Linked DNA regions of Homo sapiens: region 1 is linked to region 2. The links come from fine-mapping of genetic effects on gene expression. Tissue or cell type: putamen. Region 2 holds a variant in brackets; the other region holds the start of a gene. All regions are shown on one strand. Distances are from middle to middle.

The links. PIP is the estimated chance that this variant, and not a neighbour inherited with it, causes the effect.
Region 1: it holds the start of NUDT1, and the variant in region 2 is fine-mapped to the expression of NUDT1 in putamen (GTEx, PIP 0.96).

Annotation. Positions count from the first base shown.
Region 1 is chr7:2,237,629-2,245,628 of GRCh38, reverse strand. It overlaps NUDT1 (nudix hydrolase 1), which reads right to left and starts at 3,403. Exons shown (of 4, transcript NM_002452.4): 1 at 3,373-3,403; 2 at 903-1,066. The coding sequence starts at 1,054. MRM2 (mitochondrial rRNA methyltransferase 2) reads left to right here and starts at 3,424. Exons shown (of 3, transcript NM_013393.3): 1 at 3,424-3,467; 2 at 5,922-6,211. The coding sequence starts at 3,460. RefSeq lists a silencer at 3,498-3,717 and enhancers at 4,040-4,891, 7,930-8,000, 7,615-8,000.
Region 2 is chr7:2,142,553-2,150,552 of GRCh38, reverse strand. MAD1L1 (mitotic arrest deficient 1 like 1) reads left to right here. Exons shown (of 19, transcript NM_001013836.2): 11 at 1,315-1,401. Among named protein-coding and RNA genes, the nearest start is that of SNORA114, 58 kb to the right of the region's middle. RefSeq lists a silencer at 2,994-3,180. The variant T/C (reference allele first, on the strand shown) is at 3,315.

The DNA.
Region 1 (8,000 bases), 95 kb before region 2:
CAAGAGTGTGCCATGGGTGAGATCCCACCTCTGGAGAAAAAAAGAGAAATGAATCGGAAAAGTAGAGCCCCCTTTTATGTAATAAGGGCGGCTACTGCAACTTACTTTAGCTGTACCTGCACACCTGAGTGTGTACACTCTATCAGAGTACAAAACGTATTTCTTACTGCAGGTTGTGATGAAAAAATTGGAAAGCCACTAGGCTGCAGCGTCCTGGCTTTCCTCCGTGCCAGGACCCTCTTTACTCTGTAGTTCTCCTCTCCAGGCAAGCTGGCCTACCTTTCTCAGAACAAAAACACGAACGGGGGCTAACGTCTGTGCAGCGATGTTTACACAGATGATCTCATTTACCCTGTGAGGGTTGAGGGGCGTCTGGAGGACTGTGTGATCTTGGGTAAACGGCTCAACCTCTCTGGGCTTCAGTTCCTTCCTAGGTGAAGCTGGCTGTGTTGAGGATGCAGTGAGGCTTTGTGCACAGCGAGTGTGAGATGAAAGCGATCATCAGCTCCACTGAACAGACAGAGGAACCAAGTGACTGACGAGCCCTTCGGCAACAGTGAGGGTGCTGGGAGGGTTCAATTCAAGCTGCTGCACAGAGGCTTCCAGATACGCCCTGCAGCCCCCAGCACCACCGCACCACAACAGCTAACACGCACTCAGCACGCACCGCACACCGCGCACCGTTCTAAGTCCTTCGAGTTCATTTCCTCATTTTATCTTCACAAGAGTCCGAAGGGCTGCGGACTGTTCTTCATTCTGAGATGAAGACACTGAGGCTCACGCTTAACCCCCTGCTCCAGGTCACTTAGCTCTTAGTGGTGAAACCAAGGGTGTGGCCCTACAGCCCGAATCCCTGTGCCCTGGGAAAGCCGGTTCTATGGCCAGACCTGCCCCATCCTTACCTCCTAGCCCCATCCTCGATGGTCTCTCCTTCTTGCACTTTGCCCCCAAAGCCATTCCACCGGCCGGCCCCGAAGCCTCGCTTTTTCATGCCCAGGAGAACTCGCTGAGGCTGCAGGACCAGCACCAGGGTATAGAGCCTGGAGGCGCCCATGGTCCCTGGGTTCTGAAAGGAAGGTGAGAGGGCAGAGTCAGCCATGACGTGCGTGGAGGAAGCACGTGCCAGGGGCCAGGAGGAAGGGGACGTGCTCTGGGAGGCAGTGGGGGGCGGGGGGGTATGCTGTAACTCCCCAGCCCTGCCACGTGTGGCTTCCCTTGTGGCAGGTGGAAAACTGCCATTGAACCAGTGATTTTCTGGGGTAGAAACAGAACCCAGTGGTCAGCAGGGCTGATCAAGCAGAGCAGAGGCCGGCGCTACCTTCCTTCTCCACAAGTCAGTACTCAGGTGCAGAGGACAACATCACCTTTCCAGAGCGTGCTCTTGCTCCTGCGTCTACCCCCAGGAACCCCCTGCTTATAGGCACACAGTGAGGAACAACAGTCCCCGTGCCTGATTGGCACCAAAATAACCACGCAGTTTATCCTGTGGTCCTCAGGTCAGGCCTTTGGATTAACAGGAACTTCTTTCAGTCTAGTGGGACCTGGCCTCTCTGTAGCAGGCTTCCAGATTCCCAGGAAATGTGTGGCTGTAGACACAGGTCCACCCAGCCAGGCCCGGCTAGTCCTCCCTCCTGTGATAGGAGTTTATACCCCACCCACTCTGCTCCTGCTGTGGCTACTGTGGGACCTGGCACCCAGGGGGGCCACTGGAAGTCACAAGGGTCCTTCCTGCTCCCATAGGTGTGCAGGTCCAGGTCCAGAGGACTCTGAGGGCGATGCCTCCGCCAGGTCCCTGCTGAAAAAAGGACCCTGGAGAAATGCTGGAGGGCCAGGACCAACTTTCCTTTATTTATTTTGAGACAAGATCCTGCTCTGTTGCCCAGGCTGGAGGAGAGTGGCGTGATCGCGGTTCACTGTAACCTCCGCCTCCCTGGCTGAAGCCATCCTCCTGCCTCAGCATCCCACATAGCTGGGACCACAGGCATGAGCCGCCACACCCAGCTAATTTCTGTATTTTTAGTAGAGATGGGGTTTTGTCACGTTGCCCAGGCTGGTCACGAACTCCTGAGCTCAAGCGATCCACCCACCTCAGCCTCCCAAAGTGCTGAGATTACAGGCGTGAGCCACTGCGCCCAGCCAGGACCAACTTTTCTGGGGTCCACACCTGGACAAGACACAGGGTTCAGGACCAGTGATCCTTCTTGGAAGTTGTGGTGTCTGAGAAAAGGGACCAGATGATAAGGAAGGGGGCAGGGAAGTGCTGGGTAGAGGAGGGCGTGGTCTCTGGCCAGGGCTCCACACCCAGGCCTGTGCCCAGGGACCTGGGTGAGGACAGGCATTTCTGTTTTTTTGCCCAAATGTTGCATTTCCCGAGCCCGCCACGTCCCCGTCCTGTGCCTATAAAAAAACCCCAGTGGTTTTTTATAGTGGGCAGAGACACAAGCCGCTGGACGTCAAGAGGACGTGGAAAGCACACCAACAGGCACCAGCAGGCCATCAACTGATGGAACCATGAGTTTGGCAGGGGCGGTCAGAGGAGAGCCCAGGCTGCTCAGCAGCCCGACTCCAGGGGAAAATCACCTTCCCACTCCAACTGCCTTCTGGCTCCCCCATCTGCTGAGGGCTAATTCCACTCATAAAACCTTGCACTCACTCTCCAAGCCGCCGTGTGATCTGATTGCTCCAGTACATCAAGGCAAGAAACCTAGGGATACAGAAAGCCCTCTGTCCTTGCGATAAGGCAGGGAGTCTAACAGCTGACTAACACAAGCCACCTACAAGGCTAAACTGAAAGAGCACCCTCTAACACATGCCTGCTGGGGCTTCAGGAGCTGCAAACATTCACCCCTAGACACTGCCGTGGGGTGGGAGCCCCTCAGCCTGCCTGTCTGTATGTTCCCCTAGAGGCTTGAGAAGCGGGGCACTGAAGAAGTGAGCCACATCCTCATCGCACGCCCTTCGAGGAGGACAAGGGAACCTTTCCCATTTCACTGAGACTGGGTCCTGGTGGCGGAGGCAGGTCAGACAGGGTAAATGGGTTTGTGGCTTAGTTTCACACCAGGCCCGTGTACTTTGTCCCGACACTGATCTGTTTCTGCCAGAAGCCACGGTTTCCAAAGTAAATTTTTGTGATTTACTCCTGGTCTCCCCCAAGCCTCCGCCCCGCTCTCCTTGTCTCTCTCCCAAACCCCCGGCCCCGCTCTCCTCGTCTCCCTCGAGCCCCCGACCCTGCTCTTCTGGTCTCCTTCGAGCTCCCGGCCCCGCTCTCCCCCAAGCCCATGGCTCAGCTCCCCTAGTCTCCTGCCGCCCGCTGGCCCGGCTCCCCTCCCTGGTCACCACGACTCCTGGAATCCCCGCGCGCGCTTTTCGTACCTGCACCGCCGCTTCCGGGGGCGTGGCCTCTGACCGGAAGTGAGGCCAGGCACTTCCGGCGGCGCGCTGCAGGCGCGGGGAACACCAATGGCGGGGTGAGCTGGGCGCTGCTGCTGCGCGTGCAGACAGCGGGAGTGGTTGGGGGTCCGCCCGGTCGCCTTCCTCGGTCCTGGCCTCGGGGCTGGGTGCCGAGCGCTGGGCACCGTCCCCGCACTCAGCGAGCGCGACAGGGGCGAGGCCAGGATTCCGGGTCGCAGTTCCCCGGGAGGAGGGCGCCCTCAGGTCTCCAGGGGCAGGGCCGGCGGGGCCGTGGGGAGGCCGGGGCCGGCGGCGGAGTCCAGGTGGGGGGCGCAGCGCCGGGGCCCAGATCCAAGGCGCCGGGGGCGAGCCCGGGGCGGGATTTCGCTTCTGGGCCGGGTAGCTCCATTGCCCGCGCTTCCTGGGCTGTCGAGTGGGCCCTGGCCCCCGGGACCGGCTTGTGCCATTTTCCCGGGAGACCCCTTAAGCGAGGGGAAGACAGCGACTCACGGTCAGCAGTCAGTGCCTCCTGGCTTGTCAGCACGCTTTGGTGTTGCAGAAGCTAGAAGCTTTGGCCTTGGAGCCATGAGGGTGGTAACTTTTATTTATTTATTTAAATCAGAAAGATGGACATAGAGACCGGGCTTGGTGGCCCACACCTGTCATCCCAGCACTTTGGAAGTCTGAGGCAGGAGGATCGTTTGAGCCTAGGAGTTCGAGACCAGCCTAGGCAATGTAGTGAGATGCCATCTCTAAAAAAGGTTTTTAAGAATTAAAAAAAAAAAAAAAATTAGCCCAGGCATGGTGGTGCACACCTGTAGTCCCAGCTACTCAGGAGGCTGAGGTGGGAGGTTCACTTGAGACCCAGAGGTTATGGCAGCAATCAGCTGTGATTGTGCCACTGCAACTCCAGCCTGGATGATAGCAAAACAAAAATGGCCGGGTGAGGTGGTTCACGCCTGTAATCCCAGCACTTTGGGAGGCCAAGGTGGGCTGATCGCCAGAGGTCAGGAGTTCGAGACCAGCTCGGCCAACATGGTGAAATCCCATCTCTACTGAAAATAGAAAAATTAGCCGGAAGTGGTGGCACACACCTGTAGTCTCAGCTACTCAGGAGGCTGAGGTGGGAGGTTCACTTGAGCCCCAGAGGCTGTGGCTGCAGTCAGCTGTGATCATGCCACTGCACTCCAGCCTGGGTAATAGTAAAACCCTGTCTCTAAAAAAACAAAAAGAAGAAAGAAATGCCTGGGTGCAGTGGCTTACACCTGTAATCCCAGCACTTTGGGAGGCCAAGGCGGGCAGATCAGCGGAGGTCAGGAGTTTGAGACCAGCCTGGCCAACATGGTGGAACCCATCTATACTGAAAATACAAACATTAGCCGGACATGGTAGCAGGTGTGCCTGTAATCCCAGCTACTTGGGAGGCTGGGGCAGGAGAATTGCTTGAACCCGGGAGTCGGAGGCTGCAGTGAGCTGTCACTGCACTCCAGCCTGGGCGCCAGAGTGAGACTCCGTCTTAAAAAAAGAAAAAGAGGACATAGAACTTCCTTGGTGAGGTTGTTGTCAGAGTTAAACAAGGGGAGGTGTGTATAGCTTCCACCTGCTTAGCTATTGTGGGCTGTGAATAAATTGTTACATTTATTGTAACAATTGTCTAGAGAATCTTGGAAATTGTCCTTCAACGATTGACACAGGTTTAGTTCAATTTTATTTAAGACATGTAGGTGAGAGGATTGTTTGAGCCCAGGAGTTCGAATCTGCGTTGAACCGTGACCTCACCACTGCACTCCAGCCTGGGCTATAGAGCGAGACCCTGTCTCGAAAAAAAGAAGAAAAAAAGAAATGTGACAGGCCAGACCCTCTGTACTAGCTGTCAAAGCCCTGGAACTAGGTCACTAAGGCAAGGATCTGTCCTTATGAGGTTTTCTTGCAGCCTGTCAGAGCCCAATGAACATTTTTGCCAGATGAGAAAATAATATTACTTTAATTAATTAATTGATGTATTTAGTTATTGTTTGAGACAGAGTCTCGCTCTGTCGCCCAGGCTGGAGTGCAGTGGCGCAATCTCGGCTCACTGCAACCTCTGCCTCCTGGGTTCAGGCGATTCTCCTGCTTCAGCCTCCCGAGTAGCTGGGTTTATAGGCATCTGCCACCACGCCAGGCTAATTTTTGCATTTTAGTAGAGACGGGGTTTCATCATGTTGGCCACGGTTGGCCAGGCTGGTCTCGAAATCCTGACCTCAGGGGATCCACCTGTCTTGGCCTCCAAAAGTGCTGGAATTACAGGTGTCTCCGAATACCCCCATATTCTGAGGTACCAAGGGTTAGGACATCAACACATTAATTTTGCGGGGACACAGTTTGGCCTGTGATGCCTGCTTTCCATCTGTGTAGCCTTATCAGTTCACCTCCCCTCCTGGGCCTTGGTGCCCCATCTCTAGAAATGAATGAGTTGATCCGAGGGCCCTCCCAGCTCATGACCTGCCGTTCTGTGTGATGCCAACCTGCCTGCTCCTCTTCTCTCCCACCAGGTACTTGAAGCTGGTGTGTGTTTCCTTTCAGCGTCAAGGGTTCCACACTGTTGGGAGTCGCTGCAAGAATCGGACAGGCGCTGAGCACCTGTGGCTGACCCGACATCTCAGGGACCCATTTGTGAAGGCTGCGAAGGTGGAGAGTTACCGGTGTCGAAGCGCCTTCAAGCTCCTGGAGGTGAACGAGAGGCACCAGATTCTGCGGCCCGGCCTTCGGGTGTTAGACTGTGGGGCAGCTCCTGGGGCCTGGAGTCAGGTGGCGGTGCAGAAGGTCAACGCCGCAGGCACAGGTGGGCCTCTGCACTGCTGTTGGCACCTTCTGGCTCCCCTGAGGCTGAGTGGGCATGGGCAAGCTGCCTTTGCCAGTGGATGCGGGATGGTGGAGCCCTTTTTTGAAGGCGTGTGCTTCCGAGTGGGTGGTTTAGCAATGGTGATGATAAAAATAGGATGCTGCCATTTTCAAAATGAAAGACAAGGTAGAAAGGTGCAGTGAACATGGAAATCACCTCGCATGAGACCGCCCGCAGGTACCAGCACCAGCATGGTGGTGTGCATCCTTCCAGGCTTGTGCATGCATAGATCCCTCACATTTTCAAAAGCGATGTTGTGCCATACTTTTCTTGCTAATTTGCAGCCTATTGGAGCTATTTTTGCTTAATGATACATACATATATGTATTATATATATATATATATATATATATATATATATATATATATATATATATATAATTATTATTGTTATTATTTTTGTTCTTCCCCCCCCTCCAGATGGAGTCTCACTCTTGCCCAGGCTGCAGTGCAATGGTGTGATCTCGGCTCACTGCAACCTCTGCCTACCTGGTTCAAGCGATTCTCCTGCCTCAGCCTCCCAAGTAGCTGGGATTACAGGCGCCCGCCACCGCACCCAGCTAATTTTTTCTTTTTGTTTTTTTAAGTAGAGATAGGGTTTCACTATGTTGGCTAGGCTGATCTCGAACTCTTGACCTCAGGTGATCTGCCCACCTCGGCCTCCCAAAGTGCTGGGATTACAGATGTGAGCCATGGTGCCCGGCTACTCTTAATGATGTATTGACATCTTTCCCCAACAGCACAGCTAAATTTCCAAGTCGCATAAGCCCTGGGGCTTTCCTGGTGGCCCCACTGGGGCTGCTCCGTCCGGAACCTAGAAGAGGCTTCATGGCCAGGGCTATGGATTCTTTGCTCTGGATGAAGCTGAGACACAGTTTTCATCTGTTTTGTATCTTAGGGTTTTGAGTAAGATTTTCTATATAAAAAGGTTCTCCTGAATAATGAGATCAGCCAACCGCCCATGCAACTGAAGACACTGTCGTCATTGGGAAAGTTTCATCCTATTCCATGTAGTGCTTGCACCGTAGGTTCTTTAACCAGCTCCCTCACTGTGGCATCAAGGTTGCTTTTGGCTTTTGGCTGGGATGCGTGTGCTGTGGTGAATATCCTTGCCATTTATGTTTCCTGCTGTAAAGCCAGGGTAGCTGCATGCACTGGCATTTGAACAGGGTGAGACAGTCCACCCAGAGCTCTCCCAAGTCTCTCCCAAATACCTTAGAGTAGGGACACTGGTCCCCATTTATTGGTGAGAAAACAGGCTCAGGGTTTCATGACTTGTTGAAAGTGCAGAAATGGAATGCTGGCCCCCTGGATCTGCACATCTGCCTCGCTGCTGGTTTGCGGTAGGTTTGCCATGAACTCTTGGTGTCTACCTGCATCCCCTTGGGTGGCCCCTGCCCATACTTAGGCGGGGATATGCCTCTTCGGGCTTTTCAACAGCATTTTTTTTTTTTTTTTTTTTTTTTGTTTATAGAGCCTCACTCTGTTGCCCAGGCTGGAGTGCAATGGCGCCATCTCGGCTCACTGTAATCTTTGCCTCCTGTGTTTAAGTGATTTCCGGCTAATTTTTGTATGTTTAGTAGAGATGAGGTTTTGCCATGTTGGCCAGGCTGGTCTCGAACTCCAGGCCTCAGGTGATCCGCCCGCCTCTGCCTCCCAGCATCCTCGAGGTGCTTCCTGGTGCTTCCATCGTGGTCAGCCTGAAAGCCTTTTTATTGTTTTTCAGCTC
Region 2 (8,000 bases):
ACTGTAAGGAAGTGGCCCTTCCTCTGTTTGGAGGAGGAGCTGGGTGCTGGAAGACCGGGGGAGGGGCTGTGTGAGCGCTGGATGAGCTGATGAGGGTTTCGGGGGCCCATGGGTAGGGTGCTCAAGTGACAGGAAAGGTCAGTGGCTGTCTCAGGGCAGAGTCTGGTCGGGCCCAGTGCGTGAGGTTTGCAGCGTGCGCGTTTTAGGCAGCAGGATGGCTTCTGTTAGGGGTCCGTGGTTGCAGTGTGCCTCTCCGTGGCCGTGGCTGACTCGCAGAGAGGAGCTCCCGGGCAGGCTGCTGGGAGGGTGTGCCCGGGATCCACCCGAGGCTGCTCTGGGGGCCTGGCTGACAGAGTGACTGGGACCTCTCCTTCCAGGGGTGCAGGTAGCCTCCTTGGCCAATGTCGGGGTCCCCGTTGCTCATTCAGTGGTGCGGTGCGGGCTCCCTGAGTGGGGCTGGGTGGGGCTCTCACAGCATTGCCAGCGCCTGCTTTCTATGTGGACCTGCGCTTGGTCCATGACAGGTGAAGAGAAGAACAAGGATGGGTCCTCGGGCCTGAGCTCACATGCCACTGGGTCAGTCTAGCCAGGGAGCCTTGGCTTTGTGCCCCAGGTTGTGAGGCTGGGAATGCTCACACACCACTGGCGTAACTTTGCATGCATGGCTCAGATCCTTGCTGTGTCCTCCGGAGTCCCAGCGTTGAGTTAGAAGATGTGGCTCGGGCCGAGCTCAGCTGTTGCTGATCATCGGGGTGCACTTTGAACTTTGAAGCGGCTGTTTCACATTGGAGTCTGAGTTTCCTCGTTTAAAAAATGGAAACGGTGAACAACAGGGTTGCTGGGGCATTCACTGAGACAATCTGGAATCGTCCTGGAAAGTAGAAAGCGCTACACCTGGAGATCGCTGATTTTACTCTTGTTGTTATATGTGGGTCTTCTGAAGGAGAGGTGAGGAAAGGAACTTAAAACTCGCTGAGCACCTCCCCTGTGCCAGGGGCCTGGCGGGTGCTTTTTAAACATGATTTCGTTTCCTCTGAAGAGTGACACTGTCAGGTCGTGTCTCTGTTTCTACAGGTGAAGTAAAATCGGGGCTTTCTAAGGTCATCTCCCCGGTGTTGCATAGGGGTGGGGGCTGTGGTTGACCCCAGGCTGTAGTGCGTGCATGCTGCCCTGGACCTGGGTCCACAGAGTTCACACATCCTGGGTCCCAGAGCATCAGCTACAGAGGTTGCTTTTGGCCTTCTGTTTTGTGTGCAGAATCAGGTTTACTTCTCGGGGACAGCTGGAACTGAGTGTGCCTTGTTTATCCTGCAGGACTCCAGAAGACCTTTCCAGATTCGTGGTTGAGCTGCAGCAGAGGGAGCTTGCCTTGAAGGACAAGAACAGCGCCGTCACCAGCAGGTAGACCTGGCCGCCCAGGGTGCTTGTGGGGATGCGTTTGCTTTGGAGAGTTAGGGGTGAGTGAGAGTGTGTGCCCCCTGGCTCTTGGGGGATGGCTGTCCTTCATCATGTGGTTGGCCCTGGTCTGGGAGGAGATGGGGGAGCAGGGATTTGAGGGAAGGGTTTGCCCCATGTTTCCACCATGTGCTGTGAGCCTCCGCTGAGGCACCACCGTCCATCGTTCTGACAATGTGCTAAACTGCCATGGGGTCTGGGGGTTGGCCTCCTGTTGTGGGGTCCCTCCTTGGATCAGGAGGGTTCTTGTCTTCCCAGCAGGGTTGGGGCCTCATGTGGTCTTGGGAACCAGCCCGTCGGTCACTAGCGGGCCCACCCTGAGTCTTCACGTCAGCATGAATGCAGGCGTGATTGGAAGGGGCTCACTATGAATACCAAGAGACATGCCCCTCACTCAGGAAGTCCCAAGGGCTTCAGGGAACCTGGGATGACGATCAGATATGTATTTCTTCTTATCCCACAGCCCGGCTCTTCTCTGGTTTCGCTCGTGGCTGTGAGGGGCCATCCAGGCTCCGGCATCACACCCAGAGGCGGAAATGAGAGGCCTCTTTTTTGGATCTTTTCTGTACAAGAAAGCGTTTCCTAGGACCCCCACTGCCAGCAAGGGCCCCTTATGCCTCCTTGGCTAAGAAGGGGTCTTATGCCTGCCCCTGACCAGAAGGTGGAGCTACCATGAGGGACTGAACCCCATCCGGTGGGACCTGTGGGGCTGGTGGGCAGTGGGGTGGGCTTGCGGCAGAGGGAAGGGCCGTGCAACGGGGCCCCAGGGGAGCTCTGCGCCCTGCACGGCTGACCAGGCCGTGGGTCTGTGCGGAGGGCCTGAAGCTCACCTGTTTGCCATTGATGATCAAGCTCAGCCTTGTCCTCCTGTGGAGAGAGTGTTTTAATAATTTATTAATAGCCAGAAGGAGGTTTCTTATTTTGGGGGCTGATGTCACTTTGAAAATTGGCTTTTAGAAGCATCTGGTTGTGTTGGACATAATCACATCAATTTACTGAAAAACCTCAAATGATAAAGATTGCCTTTTGCTTTCAAAGCCGCTGTCAGATGAAACAGGCATTAAAAGTGATTTGAAGTTAAAGCGTTCACACTTTACCAGGCGATCCTCATCATTTTACTTTGGAAATGAAACAGAATGAACTATTAAAGGAAAGGAAAGTTGCCTGTACTTTTCTCCCACCAAACAGGGAGGTGCTTCCTAAAATTATTTGCCTTGACCAGCAGCAGCAGGCCCATCTCTGTGTCCAGGGCCACACGGAAGGGAACATTCGCATCTGCATGCTGCCCATGTTGCCTTCGCTGTGGTCAGAGATGTGGATTGAGCCCATGGGGGGATTGGTTTGGGAATGGGGTCTCTGTCTCAGGGAGCAGCCTCTACAGTGGGCAGGTGGTCCTCACAACCCCAGCTGTGGCTGGCCTCTCAGGACCTGTGGGCTCCCTCTGAGAGCTGGGGCACCCGCCCTGGGGAAGGGTGAGTCTTGGGGCATCCCATGGACGCGCTTGGTGCTCCGTCCTGTTCTGTGAAATGGGGTCTTGGGGGTGAGACGAGGTCCTCAGTACTGCGCTGGTCTGGGAGGCCAAAGGGAGAAGCTGCCCTGAAATCCTGGGTTCTCACAAGCGTTTCCAGCTTGCTTTCATGTGTGTGTCTGTATGCTGGCTTCTGTCCCACGTGTGGCTTATTGCCCTGTGTGGGCTTCTTTAGCCAAGGTGCAGGCTCCAGATGGCGCTGGTCACCCGTCGCCAGGAGCGCTGGAGACGCTTCCCTGAGATGGGGCAGTGGAGAGGCGCAGGAGGCCTCTGGGCGTGAGGTTGGAGCTCCCGGTCCCTCTTGCCTGCAGGTCCTGGGGGGCGGCTGGTC[T/C]GCTCCTTGCTGGTCATGTGACTTGGGCAGGCACCTGGTCCTCTCTTCATCTCTGTGAGCTGAAAGGTACTGGCAGTAACGACTGGGTTGCTGTGAGGTCTGAGCCTCCTGAACTGCGCCTGGGCACTGAGCCGTCCCCGGGTCTCAGTGCTGCTTGCTGGTGGGTGGACACTTCCCGACCAAGGCTTTCTGGGGCCTGGTGACGCTGAGTGCCTGGCCCTTTTGTGCACTTCCAAGGCCCAGGAAGGAGGCAGACCCTAGGACAGGCAGCGCTGGCAGTGGCCAATGAGGTGTGGATGAGTCCCGTCGTGGCCTTGGTGCTTGCGTTCTGGCCTCTGGGCTGCTGCTCTCTTCCGTGGCGGGACACCGTGTTCGTCGCGGCCTGCCGTGGCGGGGTCAGGGAGCCTCGCACGGTTGAACAGCTGAGCACATTTCTACAAGTCTCTTACAGGCAGTTGGACAGAAATTCAGATGAGCGTGAAGGAGGCGGCATGGCAGAAGATGGGAGGCCACGGTGGCCCAGATCCCCGAGGGCTTTGCCAGGCGGGCCTCATTTTAAAGTCACTTTTGTTTGTTTCTCATTGAAAGTAGCTTGTAGTCACTGAAGAACAGAGCCCTGGTCCAGCTGAGGTCACGGGTCATGAGAGCAGCTGCTGGGCATTTTCCCTCGTCTGTGCGGACCAGCGGGCACGTGCTTGTGACCACGTATGTTCTCCTCTGCAGTTTTTACCAAGTATGTTGGCCGTGTCCATCTTTCCCTGGTAGTGAACGCTGTTCTCGCCATCTGAGGAGCTTCTCAGGGTGCGGCTCCACTGCCCTGTTCCTCGTAGCCCAGTGCCCGGTGCTCCCTCTTCGAGGCGTTGCCCTGTTCCTCGTAGCCCAGTGCCCGGTGCTCCCTCTTCGAGGCGGTGCCCTGTTCCTCGTAGCCCAGTGCCCGGTGCTCCCTCATCGAGGTGGTACCCTGTTCCTCGTAGCCCAGTGCCCGGTGCTCCCTCTTCCAGGCGGTGCTGCTGTGACGGTGCCGCTGGGGTAGCTCACGTGGCAGCATCTCGGAATGCTTGTGCCTCAGGCCGAGCTTCTGAAGTGACGGCTGGGTCATTCGTGTGCCTGTTTTCAGGAGCTTGGCTTTTAGAAGATGAATGTTGCCTATCAGCCGGCGTAGTGTGCCGCTGTGAGCAGCCTACACCACGCAGTCTTGATGCACTTCCTGGGTGTTGTGTAACTTTCCTTCTCTGCTGATCTGATGTGCGGAACAGAGCGCCCTTCCCACAGTCGCTGTCTTGGTGACTTGGTGTTCCTTTCACCAACATGACACATGTCCACGTCCGTGAAGCCAGAAGCCAGCAGGTACCTCAGCAGGTCCTGTGGGTCGGGCTCCTCTGCGGAGTTCCTGCCGTTGCTGCCTTTTTAAAGTTTGCCTCAGTTTCTCTCCATAGTTACTGCAGTAGCATTCCAGCCTGTTTCAGGGAGGATCCTGGAGCTCTCCCACCCAGAGGAGTTCCAAGGTAGGGAAGGCCGCCCAGGGAGGGTCTGATGTCAGCTTGCCGTGCAACCTGGTGCAGGAAACAGATCATCCCGCAGTGAGCAGATGCCGAGCCGGAAGCCATCACCTCCCTTGTTTGAGGAAGAGAAAATGACACCATATCTCGGAGTTAGCTGCTGGGCCACCAACCAGCCTGGAGCAAGAAGGAATTTTCCTAGCATTGAGCTATAGTTTTGACCCCTTTTACTGGTGAAGCACAGTTCCAAACGCTGCTGTGAGCTGGACTGAAGTTTCTGTCTGAATGTTTCTGCGCTCTTAGGACTGGAGGCTGGAAGCCCCACGGTGGCACCTGTGCTGCATTCTGGTCTTGGGGCTGGAGTTGGTAGAGGCAAGAAGCTTCTGGAACTCTCAGTGTAGGACTTACTGCTTTCCAGGGTTGCGAGGAGCCTGCTTGTTAGCTTTATGCGGGTTTGCTCAGGTGCTGCACTGGAATTCCTGTCTTACAGCAGAGAGAGTGTCTGTGGGGCTGCTTGAGGATTCAGCGGGATGACGTTGGTAACGTGCCTGGTGCAGCAGCTCTCGGCAGTCCCCGGGACGTGGTGCTGTGACGAAGGGTCCGGGGCTGGCTGTGGAGCCAGGAGCAGGCAGGGCTCTCAGTGGGCAGCGGGGCAGCCTACAGGGCACTGGCCGTAAGGCGCTCCAGGAGGGTGGGGTGCTTGAGTGCATTGCAGCCTGGGGGTTGGGTCAGAACCACCAAACCTTGCCTCCTGTGTGTTTCTCCCTTCCTTTAGCCGTGGACAGATGGGGCGTCATTGGTCACTGGTGTGAGCAGAGCGTGTCAGAGATCCTGGGCCTCTTTACCTTGGAGCAGGAGCTTCATGGCAGTGTAGGGGAGCCTGGCCTGGTTTACGCTCAAGCCTCGTTTCGGCTCTTAGAATCTGAGAATGGACCTCCTGGTTGTGGGGCTGAGGACAGGGCATACTGTTCAGAATCAGTGGGTGGATCTGGTGCGCCCTCTGCTCACGCTTCACACAGGGCACCCCGGGGCTGCCCTGTAGCCTCCCTTCCCTTTCCGGGCCCTCTTAGTCTCCTTGGCCCTTAGGGACCCAAGCACCCCTCTGCCTGGCGTCCCCAGCTCTGCCGTGGGAAGAGCCGGGACAGGAGGCTGCAGTCCTCTGTGGCCCAGCCCGTGGCCATGCTGTCATCTTTCAGATCTGGGGGGGAATAGGCCAGCGTGCTCTGAGGGCTCGTGAAGAACAGGGCTGGGAAGCTCGGGCAGGGATGCGTGGGGCCATGCTCTTGGCGGTTTCTCTGCTGTGCTGGAAATAAGACCGTGCTTTGGAGAGGGCTGGTGGCGGGAGCGGGGCCTCTCAGGACCCCGTGAGGGCTCCAGGGTTCAGGTGTATCATCTGTAATCCCGGCGATGAATGACGATGGGGACGCTGAGAGCAGTCAGTGTTTGTCTCGCATCTGCCCTCACCATGCGCTGCGCTGTGCTTCATGCGCAGCCTCTCACTTGAGCCTCACAGACGCTCCCAGCTGGAAGCTCTTATGATTCCCTCTTTTGCAGGGAGGAACTTGAGCCCCGGGCTAAACAGCTGGGAGGTGGTGAAAGCAGGACGTGCGTCCAGGCCTGTGGGTCTCCAGAGCTCTGTGGGATGTGTTTGCAGGTGGCTCCTGGGTCCCTGTGGGACACGTTGTGTGGCTGCCGTCTCGGCTTTGGCCTTGCTTCTCTGCCTCAGCAGAGACCCTGGGTCATGGATCCTGCCTGGTGCTGTTTTGCCTGTTTGAAGCCCCAGGCATCCTCCTCGATGCTGACTTAAGGTAGAGCCGGCTGAGAAGTCCACAGAGGGGAGCCCCTGAGGGCCGTGGATGCAGATGGAGCTCTTCATGTTGGGGTCTGCCCTGGCCTCCCCTGCCTCCCCTCTGTGCATCGGCTTTCCCAGAAGTGCATTCCAGCCTGGGCTGTGATCGCCGCAGTTTGTTTTGAAGATCCCACCTTGCTGCCTCCAGGCAGAAGAGCCCTTGGCCTGAAGCCACAAGGCTGGCATGTCCTGGAGCACCTGGCCGTGTGGTGCTTCCAGGTGCCTGGGCCTGGCCTGTTTCATCTACTGCTGCCATCAGGGGCCTGGGCAGCGTCAGGAGGAGTCAGGCCCTTGTCAAGCATAAGGGACTCGAGAGTCATTGGGTGTGATGAGTGGATATCACCATGTTTTCTGTCACAGACGGTGCTTTTCTGAGCCTCTTCCTGCCTCAGGTTTCTGTCACCTCCCAAGAGTGAGTGAAGATCAGTTTACTAGTTATGAGTCTTTCCTGCTGTTGGTCCCAGGTGGTTAGGCCGTCCTCTCAAGGACGTAACAAGGCCTTGTCACCTGGCATCTGAATTATGGTGCACTTGAGTCATCCAGAGACCAGCAAGGCATACGAGATCCATGGTGGCTGGGCTGTTCCCCTCTTGCACTTGAGGGGCCTCCCGCTGGAGAAGCCACCACTGGCCCAGGTTCCTGGGGCCTGTGTTTGCATTTGGCTCTACCAGGAGTGGCTCTCCGAGCGAGTCTTTCTGGTGATGGTGACTCCTGTTGGGGGTTTTGAGGCTCAGTGCAGTCGCCTCTATGGAGCCTGTGGACGGTGCTGGCTCAGGGTGCAGGTTTTTAGCTAGTCCTTGTCATCACTGGCACCGTGTCCTGCTGTCACTTTTTGAGGTAATGGGAAAGTACAATTTCTGGGAGCCTTCAGGGCATGGCAGGGGTAAGTTTTCCAGGGGACTCTGTGGGGCAGGATGTCTCCTGTGTGTGGCCAGTGGTGATGATCAGACGGGTTAGGCGGTGGGGGCATCTGGGAGGTCAAGGTGACGGAATTTGCCGTGGATCAGTGTGGGTGAGAGAGCACATCGGGATGGCCAGTTCTGGCCTGCCCTTGAACTGACCATGGCCTCAGCCATGTGTTCCCAGCAAGTCTCATGCTCAACCTGACCACCTGCTCTCGGCATAAGGGGGCCCCTGGGGTTTGACATGGCCAGAGGCCTTGTTGCGTCCGTTCGGCTTTGGCGCCACTCGATGTAAATGGTCTTTGGCAGAAGGTGTGGAATCAGCCTGAGTCTAATGGGCTGTCTCCATGTATTCCACGGTGGCAGCCTGCCATGCCTGTCTGGTCCAGGGCTGTGGCAGGGCACGCGCCAGGAGCTCTGGGTGGCACCGTGCCCT